Linked DNA regions of Homo sapiens: region 1 is linked to region 2. The links come from fine-mapping of genetic effects on gene expression. A gene starts in region 2. The other region holds a variant in brackets. All regions are shown on one strand. Distances are between the middles of the regions. Region 1 overlaps DLGAP3 (DLG associated protein 3). Region 2 holds the start of DLGAP3 (DLG associated protein 3).

The links.
Region 1: its variant is fine-mapped to the expression of DLGAP3 in blood mononuclear cells (TOPMed, PIP above 0.99). The same link has a PIP of 0.9 or more in whole blood.

The regions. Positions count from the first base shown.
Region 1 is chr1:34,862,967-34,871,292 of GRCh38, reverse strand. It overlaps DLGAP3 (DLG associated protein 3), which reads left to right. Exons shown (of 12, transcript NM_001080418.3): 9 at 2,204-2,688; 10 at 3,666-3,757; 11 at 4,102-4,245; 12 at 4,992-5,857. The coding sequence ends at 5,210. Among named protein-coding and RNA genes, the nearest start is that of SMIM12, 7.4 kb to the right of the region's middle. RefSeq lists enhancers at 4,749-4,878, 4,929-5,028, 5,079-5,158 and a silencer at 5,319-5,368. The variant C/G (reference allele first, on the strand shown) is at 3,639.
Region 2 is chr1:34,926,200-34,934,525 of GRCh38, reverse strand. It overlaps DLGAP3 (DLG associated protein 3), which reads left to right and starts at 4,876. Exons shown (of 12, transcript NM_001080418.3): 1 at 4,876-5,075. RefSeq lists silencers at 4,268-4,317, 5,298-5,367.

The DNA of each region.
Region 1 (8,326 bases), 63 kb after region 2:
CTTATAGTCGATTCAAGGAACAAGGAGAATGTGGGGGAGATGAGGTTGAAGAGGAGGACTGTGTCCAGGACATCAGGGCCTCAGATAATGCTGGTACAGGAAGTCTGAACTTTGTCTTGTTGGTAGTAGGGGGCTGTGGAAGGGTTTTGAGCAGGGGAATGACTTGGCAGAGCTCAGCTTTAGGAAGACTATTCCAGTCTTGGGTGGACTGGGGAGGGCCCCAGATCTTAAAATATGCAAAATATAATTTTAGAGAGAGGAACTACCTTGGCAATTACTTATCTATTTCTATAATTGTATATATGTGTGTATTTTTAGATGTATATGTGTGTATATTTATATCTAATACATATATTTTAAATACATACACACATACACATTGGATGACCTAGATGGAGGGTGAGTGACAAAGGCACACAGTGAGAAAGCCAGCATTAGAACTCAGAGCTAACTCCTGGCCCCGTGCTCTTCCTCTGCAGGGTACTGATGGAGGCAGAGGTATCTGAAAGGAGGCCAGTCTAATCATCAGGGCAGATGGTGATGCAAACCTTGACCAGGGCAGGACAGGGCAGACACTGAGGGGAAGACTGTGTGGGAGGCAATGAGGATATGTTCTCTCTCCTTCTCCCTCTCTGGGTGGGGGTTGGGACATAGGGCTCGTTGGAGACTGCACATGAGTGCATCTCTCCTTCCTGGGTCCTGCAGCATCCTTCTGGGCCTGGTTTCTATGGCAACAGGCTCCCAGCAGGCAGCCTGCCAGCTGGAGAGAAGTAGGCAGGCAGGCAGGGAGAGAAGGCCTGGGCAGCAAGAGAAAGGCTGAAGTTGCGGGGGTTGGGAGAGTCTCTTGGGGAGGTGGAGGGACCCTAGAGCTGGGCCCACAATCCCTTCTGACCATGTAGGGGTGGAGGTAGCTCAGGACACACAGGCTTTTCTTTTGTGGTCCTTGAATTTCCAAACCTTGATCTTCTGTTTATCCCCCACCTCCCACATCTCCTGACTCCCACTTCTTAAAGTATTGCCTGGTCCCAACCTCATGCATCTTAAGCGGCCACTGACTTCTTTATAGAAAAGAACTCTGAATTCAGGGAAAAAATGAAAACGGCCAGTTGACTTTTTGGTTTGCATAAGATTTGCATATTATTAACTCAAAGACAAGAAATTTCCAGGCCCTATGTCATTCCTGCAAACAACTTAATTCAGCTCCACTGGCACTGACTTACTGTGTCTGGCCAGGCTCTGGGCTGAGCCATCGGGGTCCCTAGAGAAGTCCTCCCAGCTGCAGGCCCACTCCACCTCCAGCTGCTCCAAGGCATTTCTTCCTGTGATGTTCTAGCAGCTGGTGCAGTGGGAAGTGCTTGGACTGTGGAGCCCAGCAGCGCTGAGTCCAAATCCTGGCTCTGCTACTTTGAAGCTGGGTTTACTTAGTTTACTCATCTCTAGGTAGAGCTGAGGACACTCTAGTGCAGCTGGTGTAAACTAGCATAGACATAGAATTTGTTAAAATATTGAAATACTTCGGCCAGGCGTGGTGGCTCACACCTGTAATCCCAGCACGTTGGGAGGCCAAGGCGGGTGGATAACCTGAGGTCGGGAGTTCGAGACCAGCCTGACCAACATGGAGAAACCCTGTCTCTTCCAAAAAGAGACAAAAGGCGCATGCCTGTAATCCCAGTTACTCGGGAGGCTGAAGCAGGAGAATCGCTTGAACCCGGGAGGCGGAGGTTGCGGTGAGCCGAGATCGCGCCATTGCACTCCAGCCTGGGCAACAAGAGCAAAACTCCATCTCCAAAAAAAAAAAAAAAAAAAAAAAAATTGAAATATCTTCTGCCTTCACTGGTAAAGAGCCACCACCCTGGCTCCTCCCTGACCCCTCTAGCCCACCCCACAATCTAGCCTCTCCAGGGCACTGCTGCAGCATTTTGGTCTGTGCCTGCTCTGCCTGGTATATGCCAGCATCTGCTCTGTCCATGGACTGAACTGGTTGCTAAATAGCTTGGATATCACCCCTATCTAGAGGCAGTGCAATAGGTAGGTATATTATGTACGTAGCTGTTGCAAGGACCAATATATTTAAAGTGCATAGGTTAATGTCCATCACTTTGTAGGTTCCCTTTCTCATTCCCTTCCTTTTTTTTGCTTGGGGTGGGGGTGAGAGCTGGCATGAGCCTGGGCAATGGGGGATGACAGCCACCCCTCTCCCCAGGCGAGCAAGGTTCAAGCGCTCCAATAGTGTGACGGCTGGCGTGCAGGCAGACCTGGAGCTGGAGGGCCTGGCAGGCCTGGCCACGGTGGCCACAGAAGACAAGGCCCTGCAGTTTGGACGCTCCTTCCAGAGGCACGCCTCTGAGCCCCAGCCTGGGCCCCGGGCCCCCACCTACTCAGTCTTCCGCACGGTCCACACGCAGGGCCAGTGGGCCTACCGCGAGGGCTACCCACTGCCGTACGAGCCGCCGGCCACCGATGGGTCGCCCGGCCCTGCCCCCGCCCCCACCCCCGGCCCTGGGGCCGGCCGCCGTGACTCCTGGATAGAGCGCGGTTCACGTAGCCTCCCCGACTCAGGCCGCGCATCCCCCTGCCCACGCGACGGCGAGTGGTTCATCAAGATGCTGCGGGCAGAGGTGGAGAAGCTGGAGCACTGGTGCCAGCAGATGGAGCGTGAGGCGGAGGACTATGAGCTACCCGAGGAGAGTGAGTCACGGCATCGGAACAAGGGGACTCTGGGGACCATGGCCTCGTGTGTGCTCAGGAGACCCTGATGGGGGTGGCTGGGGCTGCAGTGTAACAGGAGGCCCCTTCGGTTGGTGCCTCACTGGTCTTCTGCACTGGAGCGTGGCGGGTCAACATCGGCAGCAAGACATGCTGGGAGCTCTTGAAAGGGAGCAGGGTGCACATGGTGCAGCTTTAGAGGCCAGGGCTGGGACTGCAGACACTGCAGGCCAAAGGGCTGGGCCTTCTATGGATGGCTGCTAGTCCAAATCACCAAGTTTATGGGGACTAAGGGAACTCCGTTCAGATCTGGACTGGTGTGGGGATCCAGGTGGTGCGACCAAGATTACAGAGAGGGAGGCAGTTCACAATGTCAGATCCTGTCTGAGGCACAGAAGAGGGAGATTCAGCCAGGGAGATGTGGCCCTGGCCCGAGGGAGAGCATGGCCCTTCCTGTAAGTCAGATCCACTGGGAGACACAGTCTTACCCCAGAATCTCTGAGTTGAGGGGACAGTGGCTATGAAGATGTGTTATGTACATGAAATTACTTGGTCATTCTTAAAGAGCCAAGGAGTCTTGCATGCACTGGGGAGTGATGAACAAAGCTTAGCCAGTGGGTGGTCATTGAGCTAATGCCCTGGCCAAGGCTATAGGGCTAGGCTGGGGCTGGTTTCCGTCTGTTCTCTGATACGGGAGGGAGAAAGGATAAAGAAGGATGAGCACTCAAGAAATGTAGGCTGTATGAAGGAGGGAACATCAGTGTCTGAGGATACAGTCTTGGTGTAGTGGAGCGAGAACTTGTTAGGAACTTGAGGATGGGATGGGGCTGGGGCTGGAGGAGACTGATGGATACACAGTGCCAAGCAACCGAGGGGTCAGCGTCATTCAGGGCAGACTTCGTGGAGGCTGGGGAAGGAGATGCATCATTTCC[C/G]TCCCTGAATTTCCTTCTGCTTTCTAGTCCTGGAGAAGATCCGCAGTGCTGTGGGCAGCACACAACTTCTCCTGTCCCAGAAGGTTCAGCAGTTCTTCCGGCTGTGTCAGCAAAGCATGGTGAGTGCCCATAGTAGTAGATCCTACCAGATACATGTGACCCAGAGTGTGTGTGTGCTGGAGGTGAGACAGGCAGGTGACCCAGAGTGAGTGTGTACCAGAGGTGAGACCAGGCCTGCATGCCTTCTGGGGTAGCTGTGAGTCTTGTGCCTGGAGGTAGGACCAGGTGTTTGTGCACAAGAAGGGGAGTCCTGGGCTCGCTCTTGTCCCCCTGTCTCCCAGCCCCCACCCACTCTCCCAGGCTGAGCTTCCTGGCAGTAAGGGTGGATAGGACTTTCTCTTGTCCTGGCTGGGGCTCAGACCTCCTTGACCAATCACTTTCCCTCCATCTTCCTCTGTTGCAGGATCCCACTGCGTTCCCTGTGCCCACCTTCCAGGACCTGGCGGGTTTCTGGGACCTCCTACAGCTCTCCATCGAGGATGTGACCCTCAAGTTCCTGGAGCTACAGCAACTCAAGGCCAACAGCTGGAAACTCCTGGAGCCTAAGGTGGGGCTGGGGTGCCTTCAGGCAAAGAGGCCAGACTCTGGGAAATTCCCCTCCCCAGAGAGGTGGAGGGTGGGACGAACAAGGGGGCAGGGGAAGGGATCCATGGGCAGCAAGGGCAGCCTTGGACAGGTGATAGGTGACCATCCCCTTCCAGAGTGACCACGCTCGTGGCCACTGCCGTCTGCTTGGCCCCAGTGCTCATCACTGCTTGAGCTGCCAGAACCCCAAGGCTTCCTCAGCGCGGGGGAGCGGGGTTGGGGGGGTGGCGGCGGCTGCAGCTGGAGAGAGCAAAAGTAGACCTTACGGAAGGACAGACTGTCCTCAGTTCGGGCCTAGGCATCGACGGCAGAGCCTTGAGGGTCCCCTCAGCCGCCAGGTCCCTGGACCTTGTCTGCGATGAGGGCCAGAGGCCTGGTATGTGCACCCTCATTGCGGAGCCTGGGTCGGGAACTCCCTCCTTCGGGTCGGGACCCGGAGTGAAAAACCGGCTCTGCTGCGAGCTGTTGAGAACGGCGCCACCAGGGGGCGCTCGAACGCGCCGCGCTTTGGTGGAAAATGTGGGGATTTGACCTTGTCGGAACAGGAGCACCTGGGGCTTCAGGTCACGGGATCCGTGGCGGATTCTGAGCGCCATCGCGTTCGGAGCCACGCGGTCGTCAGCACTCTGGGCGCGGGGGTGCGGGGGCGGACACCTGGGTGTTGGGATGGTTCGGCGCCCCAGCTCAGCGACGCCCTCTGCCCCGCAGGAGGAGAAGAAGGTCCCTCCGCCGATACCAAAGAAGCCCCTGCGGGGCCGGGGCGTGCCGGTGAAGGAGCGCTCCCTGGACTCCGTGGACCGGCAGCGGCAGGAAGCGCGCAAGCGGCTCCTGGCGGCCAAGCGCGCCGCTTCCTTCCGCCACAGCTCGGCCACCGAGAGCGCCGACAGCATCGAGATCTACATCCCCGAGGCCCAGACCAGGCTGTGACCGGTCCGGCCCGCCCAGCCCGGCCCGGGCCCGCGGTTCTCCACCCGTACTGTACACCCAGCGTCGAGGTCACTGTGAACGCGGGCCGCCCCGTGCGCCCGCCCCACCGGCACCGGACGCCCCGGCCCCCGGGCCCGTCACACTCTCGTGGGTTTTTTACCTTCCTGATCCCACGCGAAGGCGCCCGGGCTGGGCAGGGGGCCGTGCCTCTCCGCCCTGCGCCCCTCACCTGGATCCCCTGCCCACCTGGTCCGACGCTTTGTCCCCACCTCCTCCCCATGGGCACCATCTCTGCCATTCTTTCCCCCACGGGCCAGGCCGGGCCGGGTCCCTCATCTGGGCTCTGCGTCCCCCCCTCCCCCACCCCGCGGGGCTGGGCTTCGTGGGGATCAAGCTTCGTGGCTTTTTATGAAGAATCCCGAACCCTGCCTAGGAGCCCGCCCCACCCTCCCAGGGGCTCCATCCTCAGCCCTCTGCCCACTGGGCCCAGGGACCACAGTGGCTGGACCAACCCAGGACCAGGGCGCCTGGGCCTCTCCCCTTTCCCAGCGGCTGGGGAGGGGAGATGGGGGCTTCCCCTCACCACACCTGTGGCTGTTCCCACATCCCCTTGAATATCCCAGGAAAAATAAAACGGCAGAACTGCACTCGAGCCAGCTGCTCTCTCCAGAAGAGGCCACCTCCGTCCCGTGTGTGGGAGGACGGGGGTGAAGGGAGAAGGGACCGGGAGCCCACTCTCTTGGTTTGGAGATAGCAGGGGTTGCCTGAGCTCCTTCCAGGGATGGGCCAGCTGGTGGAAAGGAGATTCGGCCCCCTGATGCCCACAGTAAGGGCCTGGACCCTCCTGGAGGGGCCCAGGTGGGGTGAAGAGGGGGAGGGTGCCAAGCTCTCCGTTCTTCCTATTTCGGTGTATCCCGTTCTGCCTCCCAGTCCGCAGGGTTCCCCCAGAGAGGGAAGTCCGGAGCTCGCCGGGCACGCAGCATGTGCTCAATAAACCGGGAGTGTGGTTATTGTTAGGTATTGACAAATAATTGGTTTCCCTTCCCCTAGGGGCACAATGTTCCTTCTGCTCCAGTCATTCCTGATCAGCAGCAGAAAATCTTCAGTCCTGCCGCATTTTCTGATGCCTCCTATGGGTGGCCACCTTGGTGGAGGCTGGGGTGGGGGAAGAGGAAGTACAAAGAACAGAGCTCTCCTGGGAAGCTAAATGGCAACCAGAACCTAGTATCGATGGCTTTATTGAGTGGTCAGTGTGGGTCAGGCAAGGGGTGAGTGCTTTACATGAATGTGGCTGGTCCTTACAATAGAAGAGAAAGCCAAAGCTCAGGGCAGGTTACAAGACCTGTCTGAGGTCACAGGACTAAATGTGGTGGACCCAGGTCTAATGCCAAATCATGAGCTTTTAGCTTTGCAGGCTTCTTAGACCAGAGAGGGCTGATGGCAGTCTCCACCCAGAAAGCCCCTTTCCACTCCTTGAGCAGTCCTTTGGGTTGGTGTGTCACCTCCAGGCAGGAGGAAAAGCCTTCAGGATTGGCTGCTTTTCTGGGCCACACTGGGTCAGCTAATTCTTCTCATTCATTTATCCAGCAGACATTTATCACTTTTGGGCGCCACAGGAATAGCCCTGAACAAGATGTAGTTTCTACCCTTAATGGAACTTATGGTCATATGGGAAAAACAGACAAATAAGCAAGCAGTTAAAATACAGGAGTAAGTGCCAGAAAGATGATTAGAGATTAGCTGCTGAAGGAGGGCCAGGGCTGGGAAGAATGTTCCAAGATCAGGGAACAGCTGTGCAAAGGCTTGGAAGAGGAAGAGACATTGGGAGCACAGAGACTTGATTATATCAGTGTTTGGGTCTCATTGAGGCAGGTGGCCTGGGTCTTGTGGGCTGTAGGGAGCCATAGAAGGGTTTTGAACAGAGGAGTGGCATGAACGTTTTATAGACTGGTTTGGTAGACAACTTTGGAAAAGCAAGAGATGGTCCACGTACACACATGAGCCTGGAAGGTGAGGAGAACTCTAATGTGATCTGAATTCCCAAAAGCAGTCCGTTTGGAGGTGATCCCATACAGACTCCTGGGCCTGGTCCAAGACTTAGTGAATAGACTCTGCCCTCGAATAAGGTTTTAACAAGTGCTTCACAAGATTCTGAGCAGCCAGCTTTGGGAAGACTTAAATTGGATGACTGTCCAAAGGTCTCCAGTAGAAGGGCTGGGTCAGTTTACCTCTCTGAGGTTGTTTTATCATCTCTAAAATTGGGGGCATGGGTGAGGTTTGAACTCAGAGCAATGCTGTAAAACAGATATTGTTTTCACCCCCATTTACAGATGAGGAAATGGGCTTGGAGAGGTTTAAACAGCTTACCTCAAACCATGAAGCCAGGAAGTGGCTGAGTCTGAGTTTAACCTTTACATTTATACAGCATTTTATGGGTCTATGACTTTATTCATAGAGTTTTCCATGTCTGGTGTGGATGAGTCTCCTTTGGTTCTTGTGGCCTAGGTAGTTATGCTGAGCCCCATAGATAGTGAAAGATTAGGTCCAGTCCTTTTGCTTGAGTTGCTTACAGTCTGGCCATGGCCAGCATATAAACAGAAAGTTATGGTGCAAAGGGAAACCTGTTCTCCCAGAGGGGCCAAGGGATTGAGAGGAGAGAGCCTCTAGCAACCAGGGTGTTTTAGTCCATTTTGTGCTGCTATAACAATACCACAGACTGGATAACTTATAATGAACAGGTATTTATTGGCTCACAGTTCTGGGTGCTGGGGAATTCAGTGTCAAGGGGCTGGCAACTTGTGAGGGCCTTCTTGCTGTGTCATCCCATGGCAGGTGAGAGGGCAAGAGAGGGCAAGAGGGAGTTGAACTTGCCCTTTTATAAGGGTGTCAATCCACCCATGAGAGTGCAGCCCTCATGGCCTAATAACCTCTTAAAGGTCCCACCTCTTAATACAATGACAAATTTCAGTGTAAGTTTTGGAGGGTACAACCATAGCACAGGCAGTCTGGGAAAGCCTTCTGCCTTGTGAGTTGGATCTTGCAGGATGAATTAGCATTTTGTAGTCAAGGAAGAGAAGGGAGAAATTCATTTCTGGCCAAGGGACCAACCTGGGCAA
Region 2 (8,326 bases):
TTGAGGCAGACAATGGTATAACTCTCAGTTTGAGCCTGAAGGCTTGAGAACCAGGAGCTCTGATGTCCGAGGGCTGGAGAAGATGGATGTCCCAGCTCAAGAAGAAAGCAACTTTGCCTTGCTCTGCCTTTTTTGCTCTATTTGGGACCTCAATAGATTGGATGATGCCTGCTTACACTGATGAGGTCAGATCTGTACTCAGTTTACTGATTCAAATGCTGATATCTTCTGGTAACACCCTCACAGACATATCGAGAAATAATGTTTTACCAGCTATCTGAGTATCCCTTAACCCAGTCAAGTTGACACATAAAAATGAACAATCACATTGTTTCTTATTTACAGTGCCATGTTTCCTTGTGTGTTCAGTGACAGACATTTAACTGTGAGTTATTCATTTTCTTTGGAATTTTATCTGTGGAAATTATTTGAGGCCTGAGACAAAGATTTACATTTGCTTCTGCTGGGCACCTGAGGCACTACCAATCTGGTACATTTTATACCAAATTCTTGGCTTGAGTTTTTCCAGATCCTTTAGGTAGAGTGGATCTGACTGCATGTGATGTGAAATTTAACTCGTAGTAATGGATACTCAGGAGGTGATTCTTCCTTCCTACACTCATTACTACTGCCAAGGTTTAAAGCTTGCAATTTTCTTACAATTTCCTAGGTTTGGGGATGAGGTTTTTTCTAGCTCTCCTGTACATTGAGAGTACAGCCCTTTGGGGTTCTAAGCTTATGCAGGGGAGTATGTGACCATCTTGGGCAGACTCGGGTTTTATCTTTTATCTCTGGTGCCCTGAGAGATCATGAAAACTGAAGTTAAATTTCATCTGTCAGCAAATGACCCTGTATTAGTTATTAAATGCCATAATATTGCGGCATAATACCATACCATACCAAAGCTCAGTAGCTTAAATTAATAAGCATTCATTATTGCTCAAGAGTCTTCAAATTGGCTCGACAGTTCTTCTCATTCAGCTGGTCTCACTAATGTGTCTGCAGTCAGCTGTGGACAGGTAGATATCTCTGCTGCTCTTGCCTGGGCTCTCTCACATGTTTGGAGATCTGCTGGCTATAGGCGGGTCCATGATGATCTTGGCTGGGACAGTTGGGATGGTATAGCTCTCTTCCACCTTGTCACTCATCCTCCAGCTGTCTCAGGCTTGAGGCTTGTTCTTATAGTGAAGGCAGGAGACCAAGAGAAATAGTAGAAGTATTCATGTCTCTGAAGGCCTAAGCTCAGAACTGGCACTACATGACTTCTTCCAGATTCCATTGGCGAAAGCAAGTTACAAGTCCACTCAGATTTAAGGGGTGGGAAAGTAGGGTCTGCCTCTTTTTTTTTTTTTTTCTCCTCAGAGATCCTTGTTCCAAAGAGTCCACCTGTTGATGCAGGGAGTTGCAAAGTCACAGGGCAAAGGAGATGGATTCGGGTGGAGGTAGAGAATTGGTGCCCTTTTTGCAACACATCTTTCACAGCCCCCAAGGCTAAAGTTGGCTTCAGTGCTCTGCTTACTTCTCTGGTTCTGCCTTTACCTAGATTTTGGCTGGAGTGATTCTTATTTTCTTGCCAGCACATTGATACATTTAAGAATATTAAAAATGTACATAGTTATACATATATATTCTCTTCTTTATTGTGTTTTAATAAAAATATTTTATCTTTTTTTTTTTTTTTTGCTATTTATCATGCTTTCAGTGGGAAGATCAACTAAGGCAACTGTCATACTGATTGACACTGAGTCTCTGTCTTTGCACATGTGACTCTCTACCTGAAAGTCTCTCTCCCAATCTTTGAGACTCCATTCAAATGCTTCTTTTGTGCTTCTTTTTTTTTTTTTTGAGATGGAGTCTTGCTCTGTCGTCCAGGCTGGAGTGCAGTGGCGTGATCTCTGCTCACTGCAAGCTCCACCTCCTGGGTTCATGCCATTCTCCTGCCTCAGCCTCCCGAGTAGCTGGGACTACAGATGCCCGCCACCATGCCCAGCTAATTTTGTTTTTGTACTTTTAGTAGAGACGAGGTTTCACTGTGTTTGCCAGGATGGTCTCGATCTCCTGACCTCATGATCTGCCTGCCTTGGCCTCCCAAAGTGCTGGGATTACAGGCGTGAGCCACCGCGCCCAGCTTTTTGTGCTTCTTTGACTGTCCTCTTCACCTAGGCAGAGCTAGGCCCAGGGTGAGCCCCTTGTCCAAAAATTATTAACAATTTTAAGACAGTGACAGCAGAATATTCTACCAAGAGTGATGCCTTTCTACATGTGGGGCTCTGTACGACTGCACAGGTCACACTCCCATGAAGCTGGCCCTGATAGTAATTATTGGTTTACATCTCCATCTCCCTTATTAATCAGTTATTAATCACTGGATGGCTATGGGAGAACACTGTCTAAGGTAAGCCTGTCTGATTAACCTGTATGCCCCCAAGAGGCTAGCAAGGTGCCAGGTATAATCAGTAAAGGGTTGTTGAATGAACAAATGAAAATAACATTATGTTCTCAATTCTAAAATGCACCAACTCTAATAGCTTTAACAGAAAGGTAAGAAGAGCCATATTAAATGTCCCTGTTTATTGTAAGATGCTTTCCAGTTTCAGAATAGTTTACAAAATACAGGTCTTAGAACTGCGAAAACACGGTGGTGCTTTTTAACATCCTCTATCACGGCTGTTCTTTTTTTTTTTTTTTTTTTTTTTGAGACGGAGTTCCAGGCAGGAGTGCAATGGTGCAATCTCTGCTCACTGCAACCTCTGCCTCCCGGATTCAAGTGATTCGCCTGCCTCAGCCTCTGAGTAGCTGGGATTACAGGCGCCCAACACCACACCGGGCTAATTTTTGTATTTCGGGTAGAGACAGGGTTTCACCATGTTGGCCAGGCTGATCTCGAACTCCCGACCTCAGGTGATCCGTCTGCCTTAGCCTCCCAAAGTGCTGGGATTACAGGCGTGAGCCACTGTGCCCGGCCGTCAGCTCATCCTTTTTTTTTTTTTTCTTTAAGACTGAATCTGGCTCTGTTGCCCAGGCTGCAGTGTGGCACAGTCTCAGCTCACTGCAACCTGTGCCTCCCGGGTTCAAGCAATTCTCCTGCCTCAGCCTCCTGAGTAGCTGGGATTACAGGCACGTGCCACTGCACTCGGCTAATTTTTTGTAATTTTAGTAGAGACGGGATTTTACCATGTTGGCCAGGCTGGTGTTGAACTCCTGACCTCAGGTAATCCACCCGCCTTGGCCTCCCAAAGTGCTAGGATTATAAGCATGAGCCACTGCGCTCGGCCCAACGGCTGTTCTTATGCTCCACGGAAAGTGAGATGTTTCCTTCAGTTCTAAAGTGGGTTCCTGGGAACAACTTTCTTATTTTCATGACATCTGCTCTTGACTGAACCCTGGGCTGGAAATGGTCTGCAACCTCACTTCATGATTGAAGAGACAATGAACCGTTCTTGTGAGCAGCAGGGTAGGTGACCAATCTACTAGTCTCTTACCAGACTTCTAGGTATCCCTTGGGAAGAGGGCTCTCCAAGCCCCTTATGTTATTTAATGTAATGTGGCATCTTAAAACATCATCTCCCTGGGGAAAAGAGGTCTTGGCTCCCAGTTCTAGCTCTTCTGGGCCTTTGGCTTCTCCTTTCCGTGCCTCACTTTCCCCTTTATACAGGGAGGAGAGCCGGTGGCCCCACAAGGAAACAGAGAGCAGGGAGTTGTTGGGGTGCGGGGTGGGGGCCGTTGAATCAGAACAACTCCAAGGTATGTTCCTAGAGAGGTGGGCAGTCTCAAGCCTCCCAAGCCCACACCTCACCATCCCAAGCTTTCAAGACCGGAAAAGGTAGAGGAGGGAAGAGGGCTTTAAGGATGCCCACTGAACCTCCACCCCCAACTTTCAGCGCCGGAGGCAGTGTTTCCTCACACCTACCCTGGAAAGCCGGAATCCGGAGCCACCCCTTCCCCCACGTCTTCAGCCCCTCCCCCTGCGGCTTCCCCACCGTGGCCCCCTCCCCCCCATTACAGCATCGCTCTGGGCGCCAAGACGGATTCAAGCCAGGGGACTGCTGCAGTCCGCTCTCCGCCTCTCGGCTCCCGCAGCCTGTGTCCGGGCTCCGCAGCCTCCAGCTGTGCTTCGGACAGTCCCTTTCCCCCCACCCCGACCCCGCCATGGCACAATCCCAGGCTCAGGGCCCAGAGGCGGGCGGGCACAGTGGGCACGGGCGGGGGCCCAGCACAGGCGGCAGGTACAGCGGGGCTCTCCCTCCACACTGGGGATGCCTCGGCTGTGCGGACTGTGGGTGGGGGACGCCTGCCAGCGGCTCCGAGGCCGGGCACAGCGCCCCATCCTGGCAGGGGCTGGGGCCGAAGAGGGGGGCTCCCTGACCCCAAGCCAGGAGCTGAGGTCAGGCGGCCGACCGGGAAAGCCCGAAGGAGAGTCTCCTAAGCGGACGGGCCTGGGGGCTGTGTGTGACATTCAGGGCGTGACTGCCCCTCGGCGGGGGGCGAGACCCGGTCCGTGAGGCTGAGCTGGTCCCCGACCGCCCGCCCGCCGCCGGGCTTGGGTCCCTGTACCCAGGTCGGCTGTGCGTGGCCGTGACACTTCGGGTGCCTGTTCCTGGGTCCCCGGGGAGGGGGATCTCATTCCTGCCCCTACGCTGGGCGCCCCCAGCACCGTCGCTCAGCGAGGTGGGCGCTCCTCCGGGACCCCGGCGGCCGCCCGCGGGCGGCGACCTCGGCCCTCCTGGGTCCGCGCGGGGGCGGGGAGCTCGGTCCCCCTCCCTCTTCCTCTCCCTCTCCCTCTCCCTGCTCGGCTGCCCTGCGCGGGGGCGGGGGCGGGGGCGGAGCGCGCGGGCGGGATCCCCCCGCCTCCCCTTCCCGGTCCCCGGGAAATCCAGCCTCCGTGGCTTGGCCGCCTCCCGCTCCCGCGCCCGCTGCCGCTCGGCGCTCGCTTGGGGCTCCGCAGCCGGCGCGGCCCCTCAGCTGGGGGCTCCGCAGTGCCGGGCCCCGGTCCCTGCCCGCCTGCCCAACGCCGCAGCGCCCCCGGCCCGGGCCGCCGGCACCATGTAACCCGGCCGGAGCCCGAGCCGGGCCAGGTAAGCCGCGGGGAGGAGTGGGGACGGGGCCGCGCTCGCGGCTCCCTCTGCAGCGCCCCCCAGGCACGGCCCGGCTGCGGCCCCGGCGCCGCCCACGCCCCGGGCTCCGGCGCTCGGCTCCCGGCCCCGGGAGGGGGGAGGGGCTGGGCCTCCTCAGCTGCCCCCGCTCCTGCCCCGGCCTGGCTGCCCGCGGGCCCGACCCGAGGGGCGGGCAGGGGACCACGCGGACCGCGGACCCACGCTCCCGGTCAGGGCCGCGGGGACAGGCCAGCCCCGGCCCAGCCCTCGCCCGGCTGGAGGCTCGGGTCTGGGAGGGAGTAGCCAGCTGGTTGTGGGGGAAGTCGTGGTGCTGGGGAGATCCGGAGAGAAGTTTCCTCTGCAGGTGTGTGAATGTGAGTGCGTGTCGCTGTGTGTCTGTGCCGAGTGTGTCACTGTGTGGGTCTGTGGGCGATTGTGTGTGCCGGTGAGTGTATGCCGTGAGTGTGTGCGTGTGTCACTGTGGGCGAGAGTGTGTGTGCATGTTAGTGGGTGTATGCAGCGTGAGTGTGGAGGGTGGTACTGTGTATGCATCTGTGGACATGTGAGTGAATGAGTGTGTGTTGTCCCCATGTGTGCCTGTGTGTGTCTGTGAGTGTGTGAATGGATGTGTGTGCCGGCGTGACTGTCTCTGTGAGTGGGTCCCGGTATCTGCCCTGTGTGACTGTGTGTGTGTGTGTGTGCGTGTGCGCGCGCGTGCGTTGGCTGTGTGAGAGAGAGTGTATCTGAGCGCGGTTCACTCTGAATCACCCACACCTGGGCTCTGTCCCCCCCACTGTCCCCCCATTCCTGGTGGGATATGGGACAGGGAGATGAGACTTTTCCGAGGTCAGATCATTCCCCACTTCTCTGGGGACCCCTGACCCTTGATTCAGGCAAGAGCTTTGTGGCACTCCCCAGCTTGGTCTCTACCTTCACCTACCTCAGGGGGTGCCCTCTGGGATGTTGCTGGTCGTGTCCTTCCTGCATGCTAAGGCCCCTGGTGGGTGGGAGGGGGGATCTGGGGCGAGCTGGAGTATGTGCCTGCGTGTGCTGCTTCTCCTTTTGGGGGCCTGGGAACTTGTGTCATCTCAATAATGTTTCACCAAGGGCCTTTTAGAGCTAGGAGATGAGGAGGCCAGGTGGAAGCGTCTGCCCTGTTAGTCATCAGAGCAGGTGGCGCTCTCCCAGACTTCCAAGTCCCAAACCTTCAAGTTCTGGGTTATTGGTTCAGTCCACTGGCTCCGGGTGGGTCTGTACTAAGCTCTTTGAAGTAATAATAATAAAATAATGCCCTCATATTAGTTCAGGGCTTTTGAAAATGCTGCCCTCTGAACTCTTCTTATTTCCCCAACAGCCTTGGGAAGCAGGCAGGACAGGTATCACGTTAAGCCATATGCAACTGCAATATTCAACTGTTTTTATTTAACCTACAAAAACAGCAATTTCATATGGTTCAACCAAATATAATGCCGATTTACAGATGAAGATGTTGAGGCTTGAGAAATGAATTGCATTTTCCACAACCACACACTGCTAGTTAGTGGTACAGAAAGACCTCAGCCCAGGTCTTTCAGTGACCCAAAGAACTGGGCTGGGCCAAGGTTAGAGAGTGGTACTTCCTGGTGTGCTCTCTCTGACCCTGGGGGCACTGCCCTCTACCACTGCGCAGCATTCCCTGAATGCTGGGGCTACTTCTGCACCCAGCTGCCAATGCCTAAAAGAGTGGGGGGTGGGGGGAGAAGAGAGGAGGGAGGGGAGGGAGAGGCTTCGTGAGTTGGCAGTGAATCAGGGTCTAAAAAGGGAGCTGGGAGGGCTAGGGTGGCAGGTGTTTCTAAAAGGAACATGAACATAGGATGAACGGCCTCACATACAGCCCCCGCATCTCCCACCCGCCACTGCCCCACTGATCTGGCAGGCAGGGCCCGCTGAGTTTTGTGCCAGGGGGCTCACATCCAACGAGTGAGCTTGTATGTAGCTGTAGAATGATGGCCAGGAGAGGAACCTTAGTATTGACTTGGTCCAACCTCTTCATTACAAACCGGGGACTCTGAAGCCCCAAGAAGGGAGGGGACTTGCCCAAGGTCACACAACGAATTTGTGAGTTCCTAGGCTAATCTTAGACGAGGAACTTTGCAATCCTCCATGTTGCCTTCTATTCCTGAACTCTCCCCACCCCCATCAGAGCTGAGTACAGGGGATTTTTGGAAAAGAAATGAAGACTCAAAAAGCCTAAGGCTGTACATCTTTCAGCTTGGGACTCCTTGCCAAAGAGAGGGCGCTACAGATGTCGCTGGGGATAGGGATTCCTAGCCACACCCACCACCGAGGTAGGCCATGGGCTTGTCTTGTCTTGATTCCTGCTGGTGAGGGGCTGGAGCTGCTACAGGCCAGACTCCCAGACTTTCTCATGTTAGTACCTGCTTTCAGCGGCTGCCTGACACCTAACATCATCTCTTCCAGCTGATGTTGGGGCTCGAGCTGGCTAAGCTTGTTTTCCTTCATCCTCCCCAGTTTCCAGTGCATTTTGCCTCTAGCTGGATAGACCATTCCTTACCTTATTGGGTTCCTAATGAATAGAGAAACTTCTGGGGCTTGTCTGATTTAGGAAGGGTCTGTAGTTACCCCCAAACCCTTTCTAATGAAATCTTCCAGGAGTCTAGGACAAATGATAAAGGGATTACCCCCATTTTACAGGTGGGGAGACTGAAATTCAGCAAGGGGCCCCGTATTTGGTTGTTTTTTAGTTTTTTGGGGGTGAGGTGATGAAGGGAGCAAATGATGACAAAAACTTTTGCCTAGAGGAGCTTCCAAAGACCCCTTCTGGTCTTACCATCCCCACGGTCAGGAAACCTTCCCAGATTCTGATTTCATTCCCACTTGGTAGAGTCAAAGCTTTGTCACTCAGTGGGGGTTGGAAGAACAGCTGCGTACCCTCCACTATGCAAGCATTATGTCTTGATTTCCTCTTTATCCACCCTGCCCCTCCCCAGTCTGAAGGCTGCTGGCTCAGCGGGCCTCCTGCCGTCTGGGGAGTCTGGGTTTGAGCTGGGGTGAGGCAGTGGCACCATCGTTATGGTAACGAGGTGCCAGCTCATCATTGCTAATAACTTGTCAGGCCCCTGGGCTCCATGCAGCATCTCTTCCTACCAGCCCTTCTTCCCATGTCACAGACAGAAAAAGTAAGGCTTTGATGGAGGGGTCTGGGAATAAGGGAGTCTGGAGAAGTGGGTGGC